Linked DNA regions of Homo sapiens: region 2 is linked to region 1. The links come from fine-mapping of genetic effects on gene expression. Tissue or cell type: whole blood. Region 1 holds a variant in brackets; the other region holds the start of a gene. All regions are shown on one strand. Distances are between the middles of the regions.

Region 1 (8,233 bases):
ATATATAAAGCTCTTAGGAGCCTTTCCCCCTTATTTCTGTATTCCCACTCATCAGCACAGTTGTAGGATAGGCACATTTTTTCATCTTATCTCGTATGAAATATTAAATCATTGGAGGGCAGGTCTCTGTCTCCTTAAAGCCCAGATCTTCAATAAGCATCTGCTCCTGGGCTCCTTCCTGAGCCCCTGAACGCCTCGTTCCTAATTGTGTCTGAGTTCATCTGGCATCACTCAGAGGAGGAGGAGGAGGAGGAGGCTGGGGTGTGGGGCAGTGAGAGTCATCAACACTGCTTCCTAGTGGTCGTTGGTGATCGGTGGCCATCCCCTCCAGACAGACAACCCACAGGTCAGCAGTGAAGGCTTAGAGGCAGGAGGGCAGCTAAGATCTAAATTCCTCTTACCCAACTGAAAGCACGTGCTCTTTAAAAAAAAAATTAATTCTGCTGTTCAGATAGCAGCAAAGTCAGAGCAGGTGTGAGGCCGGCAGCCTGCTCAGGTGGTGCGTGCCCACTGCCCACTTGTGTTAGAAATCACATCATCTCCTGGCCGGCCATGGAATCCAGCACTGTCTGTCAGCTCTGGGGAAAGAGGGGGAAGGGTGGGATTTGGTTTGCTTTTATCTATTTATTTTAGTTGCTATTGATACACACAATAAAAGCTACATTCTTGTGAGGGAGGACTTGATTAGCAGCCCTGAAGGGCGGTAGCAGTTCCCTTACTCATTGAATGTATCTGGCGCTAAACCCTCAGCTGGAACTGCGAGCCCTAGCTGTATTTCAGGTGTTTCTTACTCTACTGTGAATTATGTTTAGGAACTAAAGGGCTTTTGTATCCTTCACAAGTGGGGGGAAGAGAGCAGGGGAATTGTGTGAGAAACTATTAAAAATGAGGAGCCATGGTTTGGACAAACTTCCTTGTTGGTGTGAAGAAAGGAGGAATTTTTTTCAGTTCCACCTGCCGAAGAGGCTTTTCTTATAGTTCGTTTTCATTTGGAACTACTAATAACACTCATTTTTGTAGGGAATCATCTCACCGCACCCCCTCATGGGATCCTGCAATACTCCATCCAATTCAGAAATAATGTTTTTCTCCTTGGAATAGCTTTTTACATTAACTGTATTTGAAGATAGAAAATTTAGATCTGAATAGCAGCTTTTAATAGCCCCATAAAAATAAGTGAAAATATCTTTAATTTTAAATTTAAACAAAATATCTAAAACTTAAAAGGTATTTAATATGTCAGCATATTTGCAATACAAAAATAAACATGCTCCATTTCATTTTTTTGCTTTCTTACTCCCACGGCCAGGTGATATAAATATTTCAATTTGTGTCACTTTCTAGCTATCGAATTTATAAAGCGGCTTTCATTTTCTACGTAAGTTTTTAAGCTTAATTTTTTCAGGGAAAAAATAGATCTCAAGAAAAAAAGTGTTTGGGATCATAAGTTAATAACTCATCCTATTGGTAAGGGAAGTTGAATAAGAGTCCAAACTAATGGATTAGAATTGTGTAATATTTGCTTAACCATTTGTTAAAAAAAAAAAACAAAAAAAAAACACTGGGTTGCCAGAATCCTACCTAAGATGCAGATATTAATTAGAACTAGCAAGTCGAAGTTGCACAGGTGGGTATAAAATGAATTTGGGATCCCTCACTGGGAAATGCTAAAGTTCACACAGACATATACACACACTTTTTTTTTTTTTTTTTTTTTTTTTTGGTGGCTCCCTCGAAATCATTTGTTTACAGTCTGGCCAAGGTTGTGGCCTCCAGTATTCCCCCTAAGAGATGGGATCTTTGCCTAAAAGTTACTGAGAAACGAAGGCTGCAAAAAGCCGGAAAATATCCCAGCTTTTAAGGCACACTGACAGCCAAACAGAACGCTCTTTCCGTTTGCAGTTTTTTTAGTGTCATTTTAAGTTGCAGCTTCCGGCCAATCAGCGAGCTTCATGCCTGCTGACATCACGAACCAGCCAGTTCCCTCCAGCTGCAGAGAGCTTCAGTTTGTCTTTTTTTTTTTAAACTAAAATGGAGGCTGGTTTCTTGCCTTAAGGAGCCCATTGCCTTTCCCGCTGAAGTCTAGATGTTGACATGTAATAAAGCGGGCAGCAGGATGGTGGTGGATGCGGCCAACTCCAATGGGCCTTTCCAGCCCGTGGTCCTTCTCCATATTCGAGGTAAGTTATTGTGTGTTTCACTGAATCGGAACCTTCCGTGGGTAGTTAATAAATGGCTATTGTGCTTCAGATAAGAAAAGCAGGAAGTCCTTTCTAGCAGAATTCACCCCATTTCGCTGCAGACTTAACCAGAGGAGGTTGGGTGTGTCACTGCAGTTTGGCATTTTACGAACTACTTACAGAATTTGAGGCTTGAAAGAGGCCTTGCATGCATAGTTCAAAGCTGGTTTTTCTGCTTTCTGCTCGCTCTCCCATCCCCCTTTCAAAGCTGTGCTGATGTCAAAGGATGTGAAGTCACTGCCCAGGGAAGGTATTGGGTGGGGGTAGGAAGGAGAGGCGGGCCTGTCGCGCCTGGCCAAGTTGTTCGTACGCAGAGTTTCTGTTACATATGTGTGGCTTAATGCTGCAAAGGTTTTGTCGAGGACACATCTCAGAATTAAAGATGAATTGCAGTCAGAAAATATGCACAATTGATTGGAAAAGAACTTCCTTTAAAAGGATTGTTTTCATTCTTGCCGTGGAGCCTGAGAGAGAAATATGCTCCACTTTGAAATATTGAAATCTATCGTGGGTCATCATTTTTGAAATGTTAGCGTTTTCGTGGAATATTAGGAAATATTTTGCATTTAAATAGGCTCTGTGTTGCCAGTTGGCTTTTAAAATTTTAAATGGCAACAAGTTTTCAAGGTATATAGAGATCACTGTTTTAATAATTAGTTTGCTTCTTTTTATGCATATTTTGGTTTCAAAACTTAGCCTAAAAGCACAACTACTCTAGTAATTAATAGCGGTTATATTGAACTACAGGCATCAGGGTAGTAGCCTACTTATTCTTGGTATTTTAAGATATATGAATTTTTTTTTGGTCATAATTGGGTGAAATAGAAAAATGATTTTAAGCTTCATCAGATCACTTTAGAATTTATAGTATCAGAGCTGTGCCCCAACAAAACTGTTTCTCAGAATCTCTTTTAAGGAAGGGTGGGAGCAAGATTTCTAGGTGACTAATAATCTCTATGACTAAAACGCCAGGCCAGACTTTTCAGATCCTAGGGTGTACCCAGGCACATGCAGACTCAATCTACTGGAATA[A/C]AATGGGTGGTGCTTTTCTCTCCAAACTATCTTTCATGAAGGTGGAAATCAGCATTCAATGACCAAATTGTAGGACAGGCTGTGAATTTATTGTTTTTGTAGTGCACCCAGTAAAAAGCAAAGGTTGCCTACAGGTAACATTCAGGTATTTTAGCTGCAAGAACCAAATGGGCAAGAACAAAATGTAATTGTTTGGATTTAAGTTAGATAGCTTTTGTTTGTTTTTTGGGAGACAGGGTCTCACTCTTGTCACCCAGGCTGGAGTACAGTGGTATGATCACAGCTCACTGCAGCCTCCACCTCCCGAGCTCAGGTGATTCTCCCACCTCAGTTTCTTGAGTAGCTGAGACTTCAGGCACGCACCACCATGCCCAGCTAATTTTTTAATATTTTTTGTAGAGATGGGGTTTTGCCATGTTGCCCTGGTTGGTCTTGAACTCCTGGGCTCAAGCGATCCTCCCACCTCCGCCTCCCAAAGTGCTAAGATTACAGGTAAGAGCCACTGTACCTGGCCAAGTTAGTTCTTAAAAACGAACTAGTTAGCAGTAAGATAAATTAACTGCATATAAAATGTAAATTTTTATACTTTTAAGGTATCCACTTATAAATAACATAAATCTTTTTGGTTTGTGTTTTCTGGTTTTTATTAGATGCCTAATATACTACTCAGTTTTTGAATTATGAACTTATTCTGAAATAGAATCATTTCACGTTGTGTCTTGAACCACATTGATTTTTTTTTTAAAATTCCAAGACCTTATTATGGCCAGTTTGTATTTGTTGCTGTTGGTTGGGTGGTTGGTTGCTTGCTGTATAATTGTGGAGGGAAAAAGCAGTGAAGTGTATTAGCCTGAAAGAGACTTGAGTTTTTAAGAAGGGATAACTTTGGAGACCTAAGACTAACTTCTGACTCAAACAGTGGGGGTAATTTCTAACTTCAAAATTTGAAGAACGCTTGATTTACTCATAAAGACTTTTCTGGAGCGAGCATGTTAATGTGAGATTTAGCAAAATTTGATTTATTTATTGGGCCTTAGAGTCTTAGCTTAACATCCATTGAGCAGCTCCGGTGTGCCAAGTGCTGAGCGTCATTACAGTGATTAAGTTGCAGCCCCTGTCCCAAAGGAGCGAATGGAGAGACCCAGCATAGGAGCTCTGCCACGAGAGGGCTAAAGCAAGAACACACCGGCAGGGTGCCCGGGAGAGCAGGGGCTGGTGTCAGGAGCAGAAGGAACCAAGGAGGGCTGCACCCTGGGCTACCCTGCTCACTCGGATGGGGTGGGCATGCGCTGTCCTTCCCGTTTATTTAGGAAGGAGGGGTCTTTCCCACTGAAGGAGAAATAACTTACCCAAGGTCACACAGCCTGGAAGTGGTGGAGCCAGAATCCAAACCCAGACTGTTGTGTTGTTTTGTTTTGGATCTTTTTAAAAAAATCATTTTAAAATAGGAATGTTGGCTGCTTGAAGAACATTTTGCTACAGGATTACAGTAGTGGTATTTTCCCCAATGCCTTACCATTTATTTGGCTCGGTAGCCTCTTTTTGTATAACAGTTTTGTACCTTGGGCTCATTTATTAATCATTTTACAAATATTTATTGATCCATACCACATGCCAGGCAGGGTTCTAATGTGGATATGAGCAGGGGCTATGGCCCAGCTTTCCCAGTTTACCATCCATCAGGGTGGGGACCAAGTAAGTAAGTAAGGAAAATGATCACCTGATTTGTTGTCACGATCGCTTTGACCATTATTGTCTACCAAGTAGTCTGGACTTTGCGATTAAAATGGTGAATTTGCACATCCTAATAAGTTTGAGTGTGAAAGGGACATATTTTTGAGAGTTAGTGTAAGCCCTTCTGTCTGTAGAAGGAGAGTCACCTGGAACTTGATGGCTGTGAATGTAGCTTGGTGACATAAATCCTCACTCTCAGCTGTGTCCAGGAGAACTGTCTGCTGTGGTGGAAATGTTCTGTGCTGTCCTCTGCAGCAGCCCCTGGTCACCTGCGACTGCTGAGCACTTAACATATACAGCTGAGAAAGTGAATTTTTAACTGTAGTTATTGTAAATTTAAGTGGACACACCTGTCTTGTGGCTAGGATATTGGACAGCACAGTCGTAGACTGGAATTGTTCGACTTTTTTGGAAAAGGACCAGATTGTAAGTAGCTTTGGCTTTGTGGGTGAAAGCAGCCATAGACAGTAAATGAATAGGCATAACTGTGGTCCAATAAAGCTTTATTGACAAACAGGTGACAGGCTGGATTTGGCCCATGGACCATAGTTCACCAACTCTGTTCTAGACTGTTCTTTGACTTTCGGAATTGCCTGTTAAGGATAGGAAAGCATGTTTCCTGCAGGCCTTCAGTCTAGTGCCTCCTCCCTGTGCTGGGAAGCTGGGCCAGCCGTGATGCTGTGAGGCGTGGTGGGTGGGCCCACTTCCCACCCTGCAGCGCATGCTCACTTCAGGAGCCAGGTTTAAGGCAGTGACAGCCAAGCCGGAAAGATGGTAATGGCCAGAGAGGAAGCACACAGTTTGAGCCTTTTCCAGCTGGCCCTTATTCTGGGCTTCAAGAATGTTATTAACTGCTCTCATCTTGTTCTAGTCATTAGCAAACTTATCCAGTGGATGAGTCTGTCCTTGAAAGACTCAGGAGTAGCTCCAGCCTGGTGGGATGTTGGAGAACAAACCATTCTTTTGATGTAAACCCATTTTTTCTTGGGAAGTGGAAGTCTAATGGAAAAGTTTATTTTCTCACAAGTACTTCCTGAGTCACCAATTTGTTGAAGGTCTTCACCTTTCCAATAAAAACTCATTAAAAAACATGCAAGAAGCAAGCACAGAACTCAAACCCATGGCTTTCATTTCCTGCTGCGCTAAATCTGGTGACTTAACCTATATTAATAATAACAATAGCTATACATAATGCACATGGGTTGCTAAATTAGTAACACACCTGCATGGTGTGAAGTCAGTAAGTACTAGTGAGAATGGGTGCCCCCTGTTATCTTTATTCCCTAAAATTAGGAAGGAAAAATGTTTGAATGATGACTAAACAGTTCTTCAAATAATTAAACCAGTGATCCTCTGAACAGTGCCTCAGCTCAAGATTTTTACTTCACAAACATCTCTTTACTATGTAACTGCAGCTCTCTGCAAAGTGACTTTATAGAACTACAGCCTTAACCTTACCCATATCCTATCCTGTATCCAATCCTGTATCCTAGGTGTGAAGTTGTTTCTTTCGTATTCCTGGTGGTGTGGAAGGTAACCAAAGTAACAGATAACTCTCTGAGGAAACAGGGGTGGGTATGTTTGTGTAAAGTCTGTACACCTTTTTGTTCCTTAAACACACACACATTTATGCTCATAAACACACTCTCATCCACCTCCCTCATCCATACGCTCTCAATCTCAGAGGCAAAAACAAAAGCTTACCATCCAGCTTGGGTCTAATGTCTGCTCAGGAGGTTTTGCCTTGCAGCAAAAGCTATCTTCTAAAATTTTCTCATTAAAGTATGTTGTGTAGAGGAATGAAAGAAAAATAGAGGTAAGGTTATTAGTCAAGAATAGGGTGTGTGTTTTTAAACCCAGGAAAAGAATAGACAGAAACACAAAGACAAAGTGGTTTGGGATACATCCTAACTTTTGGTTCCATATGTCAAATAAAATTGCGAGGTGGTTCTTTTTGGATCCTACAGCACTTTGCCAATTGTGACAAGCTGTTGTGAACACTCATGTACTTCTTCCTCACAGCACTCCTGCCTGGCAGGTGAGCAGGACAATCCTAGTATTTCTCCTCCCCAAGGTCACCCAGCCTAGAGGGTCCAGTCCAGGGCTGTTGGCAGCACCAAGTACGAGGTCCCGAAGCTGCTGCTGGTGGCTGTCCCAGAGGAGAAGCAGCATACGTTGAGTGCCTTCAGTGTGCTAGGTCACAGCTGAAACCCTGTACCTCTGTTCTCTCTCTGAATCTGCCCAACACTGTGAGGCATTATAACCCTCCCCCACTCACTACCGCCCCTGCCTTTTTTGTCCCCCCGGGAGAAAAAAGGGAGCCTCTTGCCCAGGGCCACAGAGAATGTAGTGAAACAAGATTTGAGCCTCAGTCAGTCTGATAGCAAAGCTCATGTTCTTTGCTCTGCAGACATCAGAGTGTTGAGAGATGCTGGTGAAAGCTCCCACCTCATAGGTACTTTTTGATTTTTACTGTTTTCTGTACAGTGGTAATGGATTTGAGTGTCTGGAGTTCAAAACTCATTTCAGGGTTGAATAGGAGTTTGTTAAAGGTTTACATGCGTATGTTCTTGGTGTGCAGGGAGAAAGTTGATAATCTTACCTGCTGTCCCAGTTCACTTACCAAATCTGCCAGCTAGTAACTGTTGACTTACCTCCTCCACAAAATCAGGAGTATCCCGAGGACAGTCCTGTTGAACTTGTTCTCTGGTGACACTGAGCATTATTCCTAGAGTAGAGGCATCAGTTAGTGTCAGTGGATTAAAAATTAAAAGTTATCTCTGAGTGATCACTCAGGAAATAGCTATCTACTATATTTCTTTTTTGAGTTGGAGTCTCGCTTTGTCACCCAGGCTGGGGTGCAGTGGCGTGATCTCGGCTCACTGCAACCTCTGCCTCCCAGGTTCAAGCGATTCTCCTGCGTCAGCCTCCCGAGTAGCTGGGATTACAGGTGCATGCCACCACGCCCGGCTATTTTTTGTATTTTTAGTATAGACAGGGTTTCACCGTGATGGCCAGGCTGCTCTCGAACTCCTGACCTCAAGTGATCCGCCCGCCTTGGCCTCCCAAAGTACTGGGATTGTAGGCATGAGCCACCACACCCGGCCTATCTGATGTATTTCTTAGCTAAATACCTCATCAGTGGAATGAGAAGCTCATGAGAAGCTGTACTTTATTTTTCTTTCAATCCTCTATACGCTGTAGTTAACGTATTTCAATGAAAAACA
Region 2 (8,185 bases), 49 kb before region 1:
GCCTTCATGAACATGGAATGTGGGGCCATCCTGGAAGAGGTAACCCTCAGCCACACACACACACACACACCCACATAATGGCTTTATATCCTATCTCAATAGCTTGTCCTGAATCCCTTCTTTTGGGAGCAGGAGCTATATCTATCTTTAGCGTTCCTGTAAATACCACAGCACCTAAGACACTGCATGAAACCCAGTGTGTTCTACGGGTAGTCGGTAACTAACTGTCCTTAAAGATGGTCCTCCCTAATGTGGGCAAATGAAGCCAGTCCAATGGCCAGTGACGTACACATGCAGTTGTACAGGTAATGGTGTTGAGTCAGATTTCTCTGGTTGCTATGGTTTCAAGGTCACTGGATGTTAATCAGGCAGCTTTGCTTGTACCCTGTCCCTATGCTTTCCCTAAAACTCTAAACTGACCTGAGAAACCTCTAACCTGACATGCAACTAGTCCTCTATGCTATATTTCCAGTTGCCATCTTGGACACCTCTACCTACATTTTGCGGACACAGCAACGTGTCCCAAACTGGAATCTTGTTCCCTTGCAAACCTGCCCTCCACTTGCATCCCTTCCTCATCATTCACTGTGTTGCCCAAACTACAAGCATGAGCATTCGCTTTTTATCCTCGATTCTGGCTCTCTGTCGCGTCGGCGATCCTTCCCCCCGTTGCTGTGGAGATGCCTCCCTGGCACGCACCTGAACCATAGCTGGATGCTGATTGCTCTTTCTGCCTCCTGCTTTTACTTCCACCCTCACCTCCTCCACACTCCTGCCACCGATGTCTTCTAAAATGCAAATGTGAGTACATCACTCCCCACTTCAGTATCTGTCAGTGACCCTGAAATGCATTCAAAAAGAAGTACAATATCTTGGCAAGGTCTACCAGTCTTAATTCAGCGTCGCTGTTCCTTCAGTCTCATCTCCGGCCATAACAAAACGTCCTGTGCAGTGCTCTGTCATGCTTCCAAGCCTGACCCCCCTCACCCCAGTCCTGTAGACTTGTCACATGTCATGTCCTTCTGATTGCTGGTTTTTTCTATTTCCATGCAAGCATGTGAACTGCTTGAGGACAAGGGTAGTGCCTTGTTCACCATGAAATTTCTGGCATCATGCTTTGCACATAGTAGTTATCCAACAAATGTGGGTCGAATGAATGAATTGTATGCAACACCGGATCAGGAGATATGATACAAGGATTTGGGTGGCAAAGGATTGTCTCAGAGATGCCTCTAAGCCTCCCTAAGAGTTCATGGCCATAAACCAATAGTTTCAGAGCTACTCCTTTTTGATATGGATATATCCTGGACTTATTAAATTGACAGCACATATTTTATTTTTAAAATGTTATTAAGTTAACTAGGGGCATCGCTCTATCCTCAAAATTGTTTTGGAGACACCATTAACCCACTTAAATTATTAATAAAAAAGCCACTTATTCCGCACAAATAGTTGAGACTGTCCTGCTTACCTACAGATATTCGTCTAAGAGCCGGCAGACATTCAGATACCCGCAGACAGAACTTACTTTCTGGACCTCCCACAACATTCCTCCCTTTAGATCTTTTTTTTCTTACCCCGTCTTTCAGCTTTCTCATTGCAGAACTGCTGAGAATAATGGAAAATGCTTTGCCTGGAAACTTCCAAGAACAAAACTCCGGGGGCTAAGAGAACGCGATGATTTTTAAGCTGCCAGTTAAGATGCAGCTCCTTCATCATCACAGGTGAAGCACCAATGCCTCTCGCACGTGAAATCCGTACGCTCCTAGAGTCTTACTACCTAATGCATTTCTGCAATCTGGGACGCCTGTCCTTAGCGTCTTCAATAGTTTTGGGCACGAGGTGGACCGCGGAAGTATTGTATTGAAAAGTTAACGTTTTTCCCTTGGACACCCTCTCCTCACAGCTATTAACAAGCTGAGAGAAATCAGGTGACTCCCAGTCATGCAGAGGTTTCCTCACCATTTATGATCAAGCCAAATTAAAGAATAAAAATAAAATCCTATTGGCGCAGCGGCCACCAAGTCTTTGAGGCCTCGCCTCGGTGGGCGGGGCCGACGCCGGAGGAGAGGGGCTGCGCATGTGGGCGTGACCTCGCGGAAGGAGCTGCGGAGGGCGGGGCCGACTGGAGAGGGGCGGGGCTGTCGGGTGGGTGGGACCTCGCGGCAAAAGCTGCGGAGGGCGGGACCAACCAGGAAAGGACGGGACTGTCGGGTAGGCGGGACCTTGCGGGAGAAACTGCGGAGGGCGGGACCAACCAGGGAGGGGCGGGCTGTCGGATGGGCGGGACCTCGCGGGAGGAGCTGCGGAAAGCTGAGCTGGTGAGGGGAGGGGCTGGTCGAGGGGAGGGGCTGGTCGAGGGGAGGGGCTGGCCGAGGGAAGGGGCCGGCCGAGGGGAGGGGCCGGTCGAGGGGAGGGGCCGGTCAAGGGGAGGGCCCGGCCAAGGGGAGGGGCCGGTCGAGGGGAGGGGCCGGTCGAGGAGAGGGGTTGGTCGAGGGGAAGGGCTGGCCGAGGGGAGGGGCTGGCCGAGGGAAGAGGAGGGGAGGGGACGGGCTGGTCGAGGGGAGGGGAGGGGAGGGCAGGGGACGGGCTGGTCGAGAGAAGGGGAGGGCAGGGGACGGGGTGGTCGAGGGGAGGGGACGGAGGGGAGGGGAGTGGAGGGAGAGGAGGGAAGGGGAGGGGAGGGAAGGGAGGGGAGGCGGGGCCCAGCGGTGTCCCGCGAAACTGCCGCTCGCTCGGTTCCCGGGCCTCCCCGTGCGCCTCAGTGCAAAGCGTGCCAGGCACTCTTGACTGCAACGAGAGCCGCGGCGGTGAGGGGGCAAGGCCAAGAGGCCACGGTTCGCGTTTCGCCGGCTGCAGAAGTTGTTGCCATACATTTCAAATGTGCATTTCCTACGTCTCACGCTCTGTCTTGCGCCTCCACAGCGGGCCACGGCCCTGTCACCGCAGTCGCAGCCACATGCTCCCTCCCCTGAGTCGGCTCAGCTCTGCTCAGCGGTCAGCCCCGCGCCAGGAGGCCGCGGCCTGCCTGAGGCCGGCTCGCAGCGACTCGGGACGGAGGGCGGGGGCGTGAACGGGTCGCGCGGAGAGGGTGGGGGGAGCGGGGAGCGTTAGGGTACGTGGGGGCGCGTCGACCAATGGCAGGGCGCTGTTGAGTGCAGCGGGGCGGGGCCGGGCGCGGGGGTGGGGCGAGCGGCGGGCGGGGCGGGGCGGCCGGCCGGGGGGTGGGAGGAGAGGGGCGGGGCGGGCCGGCCGGGGGAGGGGCGGAGAGACGCCGCCGCTGCCGCCGCCGCCGCCGCCGCCGCCGCCGTGGCTGCCGCAGCCTCTGGGAGTCTGGAAAAGGGGAAGCGAGAGCAAGCGAAAGACTCAGTCCCCGGGCGGCGGCGGCGGCGGCGGCCGCGGGGGCGCGACGGCCGGGGCGGGGGCGCTGCTGCTGCGGGGGCAGGCGGCGGCAGGGGCGGCGGCGGCGGCGGCGGCCCGCTCCAGCCATGCCGAATAAAAACAAGAAGGAGAAAGTGAGTCCGGGCCCGGCCGCGGGACGGAGGGAGCAGGGAGGGACTGCCGGGGGAGGGCGCGACGGCACCGGGGTCCTGCGCCCGGGCCCCGGCTCAGTTCCCCGCCTGACGCCGCGGGCTTCGCGTCCCCGAGGGCGGCCGAGCCAGGCATCCCCGGGCTTCTCTCGGCCTCATGCCCGGTGGGGGCGGGGAGCCCGGGGATCGCGCCGGAGCCGCGGGGCGCAGGCCCGGGCCGCTGGGACCTTCGTGATGGGCCGGGGCTGGGCGTGGAGGGAGGGCGCGGCCCGGGGAGGGGGTCGGAGGGGCGCCCGTTTCCGACAGCGCGCCGTGGGCTTGGGCGGGCAGGTGCGGCCGCCGAGGGGGTTCGCAGCCTCGCAGGCTCCCGGAAAGGAGCTTCAGGGATGGGGGCTGTAGACGCCTGGGGAGGGACCCCTGTACGGGGGAAAGGGAGCGAGAAGGGACCCCGCTGAGAGCTGGTAAGGAATTCTCTGCCGCCCCGGAGGGACGCTCTGGGGCTCTCGAACACTATTATTATCCTGGGTGGCGGCGGCGGTGAGGGCTGCGAGCAAGGGTGCTGCGTTTGCATTCGGGGGGGCGGGTATGTTTCTGCTTCAGGTGGAGCTCTGTAGCGTTTCATTATCACCCCAGAAATCCTCACTCATAGGGTTTAGGGTGGGAGGGTAGAAAGGGATGTGATGTGGATCTCAAAATGCCAGAAGCACTGTATAAAATTGGATTTATCTGTTTTCTGCTTGAAGTTTTCAACCTCAAATGCAGATAAAACGAAAAGAATCTGAATGGGGGTTGGGGGGCATTGCACTGTTGGAATCCTAAACGGTATGATATAGAATTTCCTAATGGTATGAATTAAAAATATCAGAAGCTGTAGTTGTATAAATCACTTTTAAAACTGCATTTGGCTTATCTGATGTTTACCTGTCTAAAAAGTGAGAAGACTAATTGACTTTGCTTGATGTTTACCAGGAATCACCAAAAGCAGGGAAGAGTGGAAAAAGTTCAAAAGAAGGACAAGACACAGTAGAATCAGAGGTAACTGTCATCAAATATTGACTTTGTATTTTATACACAGCTTTTAACTTCAGGTAGAAAAACCGAGAGTGATAAAGCCTAGAATCTTCTAAAATGTTTCCCTATGTGAGGTTTTTTTTTTGTGGTGTCTTTTATAACCCTCAATTTTAGTTGTTTAGGTATTTACTGTTTTGCTTTGGAAAACTATTAATGATTTTATGAAAATTGTGCTTGCCTATGGGGTTTGTTTGTGGGTCTTTTGGGGTTTTTTTTGTTTTTTATTTTTTTGAGACGGGGTCTCACTTTGTCACGCAGGCTGGAGTGCAGTGGCGCAATCTCTGCTCACTGCTACCCCTTGCCGCCCAGGCTCAAGTGATCCTCTTACCTCAGCCTCCCAAGTAGCTGGGACCACAGGAACATGCCACCACACCCAACAAATTTTTTTTTTTTTTTAATAGAGTCTCACTCTGTCACCCAGGCTGGAGTGCAGTGGCGCGATCTTGGCTCACTGCAACCTCTGCCTCCCGAGTTCAAGCAATTCTCCTGCCTCAGCCTCCTGAGTAGCTGGGATTACAGGCACCCGCTACCACGCCCGGCTAATTTTTGTATTTTTATTAGAGACGGGGTTTCACCAGGTTGGTCAGGCCGGTCTTGAACTCCTGTCCTCGTGACCCGCCCACCTTGGCCTCCTAAGGTGCTGGGATTACAGGCCTGAGCCACCGTGCCCATCCTGGATCTGGTATTTTTAAGTTCATTTCCCACACCTCAAACCCAGCAACCCTCCTGTATAGATTGGTCTTATGCAGTCTATGGTGTTGCTATGTTGCTTTTAGCTTTAGGGTCATCTCCCCACCGCCACTTCCATTGCAAGCTGCCAGGCAACTCAGTGGTTAGTTCTTTTTCTTCCATCACCTTGTTTTCCTTCAAACCACCTCTGCTACTGACGTCCTGGGCTAGCTCCCTATTTCTGTTGACGGTCCCTTGGCCTCTTTCTCCAATAATGTTGGTATTTGAAAAAATTTACCTAGTTTTGGTATTTTATTATTGTTCACATTGTGTGTGTGTGTGTGTGTGTGTGTGGGCGCGCGCACTTGCGCGTCGGCCACTTGTAAATTTCTTTGCTTCTTGGCTTTGGCCTCATTGAGGAACAGCTGGAATGCCAAGTGAGCATTGCATCTACTTGACCAAGGTTGATGCTGTTCCTTCACACCGTGAAGTGCCTTCAGAGGATTTGCAGAGTCACCACTTTCCTTTGCCTTTTCTTCCTTGTGACTAATTGTTGAACTAGAGCACCTAGGGCCAAGGGTCCAGGAGCTGCGTGGACCCAGGCAGAGCCAGTAGGTCCTTTTGAATCCATGGGTAGCACATAATTGGGTTAATAGAGTGTCAGTTATCCAGAACTGGATCATTGAAGCCCCAGTCTTATCACAAATGACGTTTATTTGCCAGTGTCAGACTTCTTCCTGTAAGCCAAATTAGAATGAGTTCAGTTCTGTCTGGGAAACACAGTTAACTGGCGATGATCTGCAGTGGACTTTTTTTTAGCCCTGCATTCTCTCTTTTCTATCATTTGGTGTATTCTGAACCTCCCTCCTCTTCAGCAGGTGGTTTATTCCAGCAAATCTGTTGCCCTCCCCAAAGCAAAAAGCAGAAATCCAAAAGATTCCTTAAATGTCAATAGTTAGGATCATTTGTGCCAGTCTGTCCCTCCCTGTCTTTATAGCAGACAACTGAGGTTTACTGTGCCATGCTGGGATTTGACTTGTTTCTTTCTTCCCTGTCACCCTTTTGACTAAATTCATTTCGATGAAGATGAAATGTAGGTGCTTTATGAAGGTATATGCTATATGCCTTTTTTTTTTTTTTTTTTGGTCTTTTGATCTTTCATTAAAACTGCTAAGATTTCTTCTCCCCAGAGCTTTCTTGCTAATGTGCCTATATCCTCTTACTTTAGCTATATTCCTTATACAAAGGAGCATCAGTGTGTATATATCATTTATTTCTATTTTTAGTGGGAAGATCCTGGCTGTAAGGATGAATAATGTTAAGTTTAAACCTGAAAAATCTCAGTAGTTCAAAGATACCAAAATCACTACTATGTGAAATGTGTGTTTTGAAAGCAGTTTGCCAGCCGTGTGAGACCTGCGGTGTGGCCTGCAGTGCCTGAGTATGATGCCCCACTTGTCTTTTTGTATTTTTTCTAGTGCTACTGTCTAAGAGCTGGAGCTACAGAGCTTGAAATTACCACTGAAAACACTGAAATGTTGGGCCCTTCACTGCTTCCTCATAAGGATACCAGAGGCAACCTGGCATATTAAGCTTGACACTTGGCAGATCACTGTGTAAATTGTTTTTCAGGAATACAAGTTGGGACACTTCTGTTCATTTGACCTTTGAGTTGACCCTTAAATTTTATTATTGTTTTTTTTCCCCTCAGTCTTCAGCTCACTGCTTCACTTCTAGTTCCACCCACTTACCAAATATGATTGACTCATGCAGGTGAATTAAACCATTATTGCACACTTTTTCCCTCTCCTCTCTCTCAGTATTACTCTTAACTTGAATATTTTAACCTGAACAATTTAAATAGGCTTGACATTCCCATGCTGCTTTCAAGCCTTTTTTTTTTTTTTTTTGAGACAGAGTTTCACTCTTGTTCCCTGGCTGGAGTGCAATGGCACAGTCTCGGCTCACTGCAACCTCCACCTCCCGGGTTCAAGTGATCCTCTTGCCTCAGCCTCCCAAGTAGCTGGGATTACAGGCTCCTGCCACCATGCCCAGCTAATTTTTTTTTTTTTTTTTTTTTTTTGTATTTTTAGTAGAGACGGAGTTTTACCTTGTTGGCCAGGCTAGTCTCGAACTCGTGACCTCAGGTGATCCGTCTGCCTCAGCATCCCAAAGTGCTGGGATTACAGGCGTTAGCCACCATGCAGCCCCTTTCAAGCCTTTTAACATCATGTCACCTTCACAATGAGCAGTTGCTCCCATTACCCAGTGAACTCACCTTCTGATGGGACAGTTACCCTAGTTGGGGCTTCTCAGCCTTGAGAGATGTGCAGAGCAGGGACCTGTCCAGGGCAGAGCAGCCAGACAGCGTGGAAATAATCCAAACAGAGAAAGCATTCAAGAACTTGGCCTCTGGTTGACTTAACACACTACTTCAAGTATATGGCAGGTCTGTATAATAAACTCCTGCCTGTCTAGTCTTCAGCCTCATAGAAAGCAAGAAAGCAGGTGGCGTATGTTGCAGAACAATTCTTGGGTAGAACAAGGGGACATTTGATGGTTTGGGTTTTTCAGTAAGAAAGATGAAGTCCTGGAGTATAGGGTAGAGTGGTACAGTGGAAAATATTTCAGCTTGGGGGTTAGAAAATAAACATGCCGATTCTTGCTTTGCCATAAATGATGTCACCTAACTTGTGTGACCCTGTTTTCTCATCCCTAAAATGATTTGATAAGTTTAAGATTAGGCTATTTTTAAATGTATGGAAGAAATTGGGTGTTACCCTTCTTGAAAGACATTTTCCCTGCAAGTATGGCAGGCTGTATCTTTCAGTGTAACAAAGTTCTATTAAAGGTCATAACTGCTGCCCTGTAACTTTTGCCTTATTCTAGAAACTTCTACTCCTTGAATGACATGT

The links. PIP is the estimated chance that this variant, and not a neighbour inherited with it, causes the effect.
Region 2: PPP2R5C starts here. The variant in region 1 is fine-mapped to the expression of PPP2R5C in whole blood (INTERVAL, PIP 0.96).

What each region holds. Positions count from the first base shown.
Region 1 is chr14:101,807,857-101,816,089 of GRCh38, forward strand. All of the region lies in intron 3 of PPP2R5C (protein phosphatase 2 regulatory subunit B'gamma), which reads left to right. It overlaps LOC124903388 (a long non-coding RNA gene), which reads right to left and starts at 3,134. Exons shown (of 2, transcript XR_007064349.1): 1 at 2,361-3,134. RefSeq lists enhancers at 136-430, 2,180-2,762, 2,354-2,433. The variant A/C (reference allele first, on the strand shown) is at 3,273.
Region 2 is chr14:101,758,406-101,766,590 of GRCh38, forward strand. PPP2R5C (protein phosphatase 2 regulatory subunit B'gamma) reads left to right here and starts at 3,304. Exons shown (of 16, transcript NM_001352913.2): 1 at 3,304-3,515; 2 at 4,500-4,565. The coding sequence starts at 3,489. It overlaps LOC107984658 (a long non-coding RNA gene), which reads left to right and starts at 5,674. Exons shown (of 2, transcript XR_001750901.1): 1 at 5,674-5,881; 2 at 6,749-8,185. RefSeq lists silencers at 2,150-2,259, 2,330-2,479, 2,540-2,589, 3,050-3,209, 3,220-3,459 and 2 more.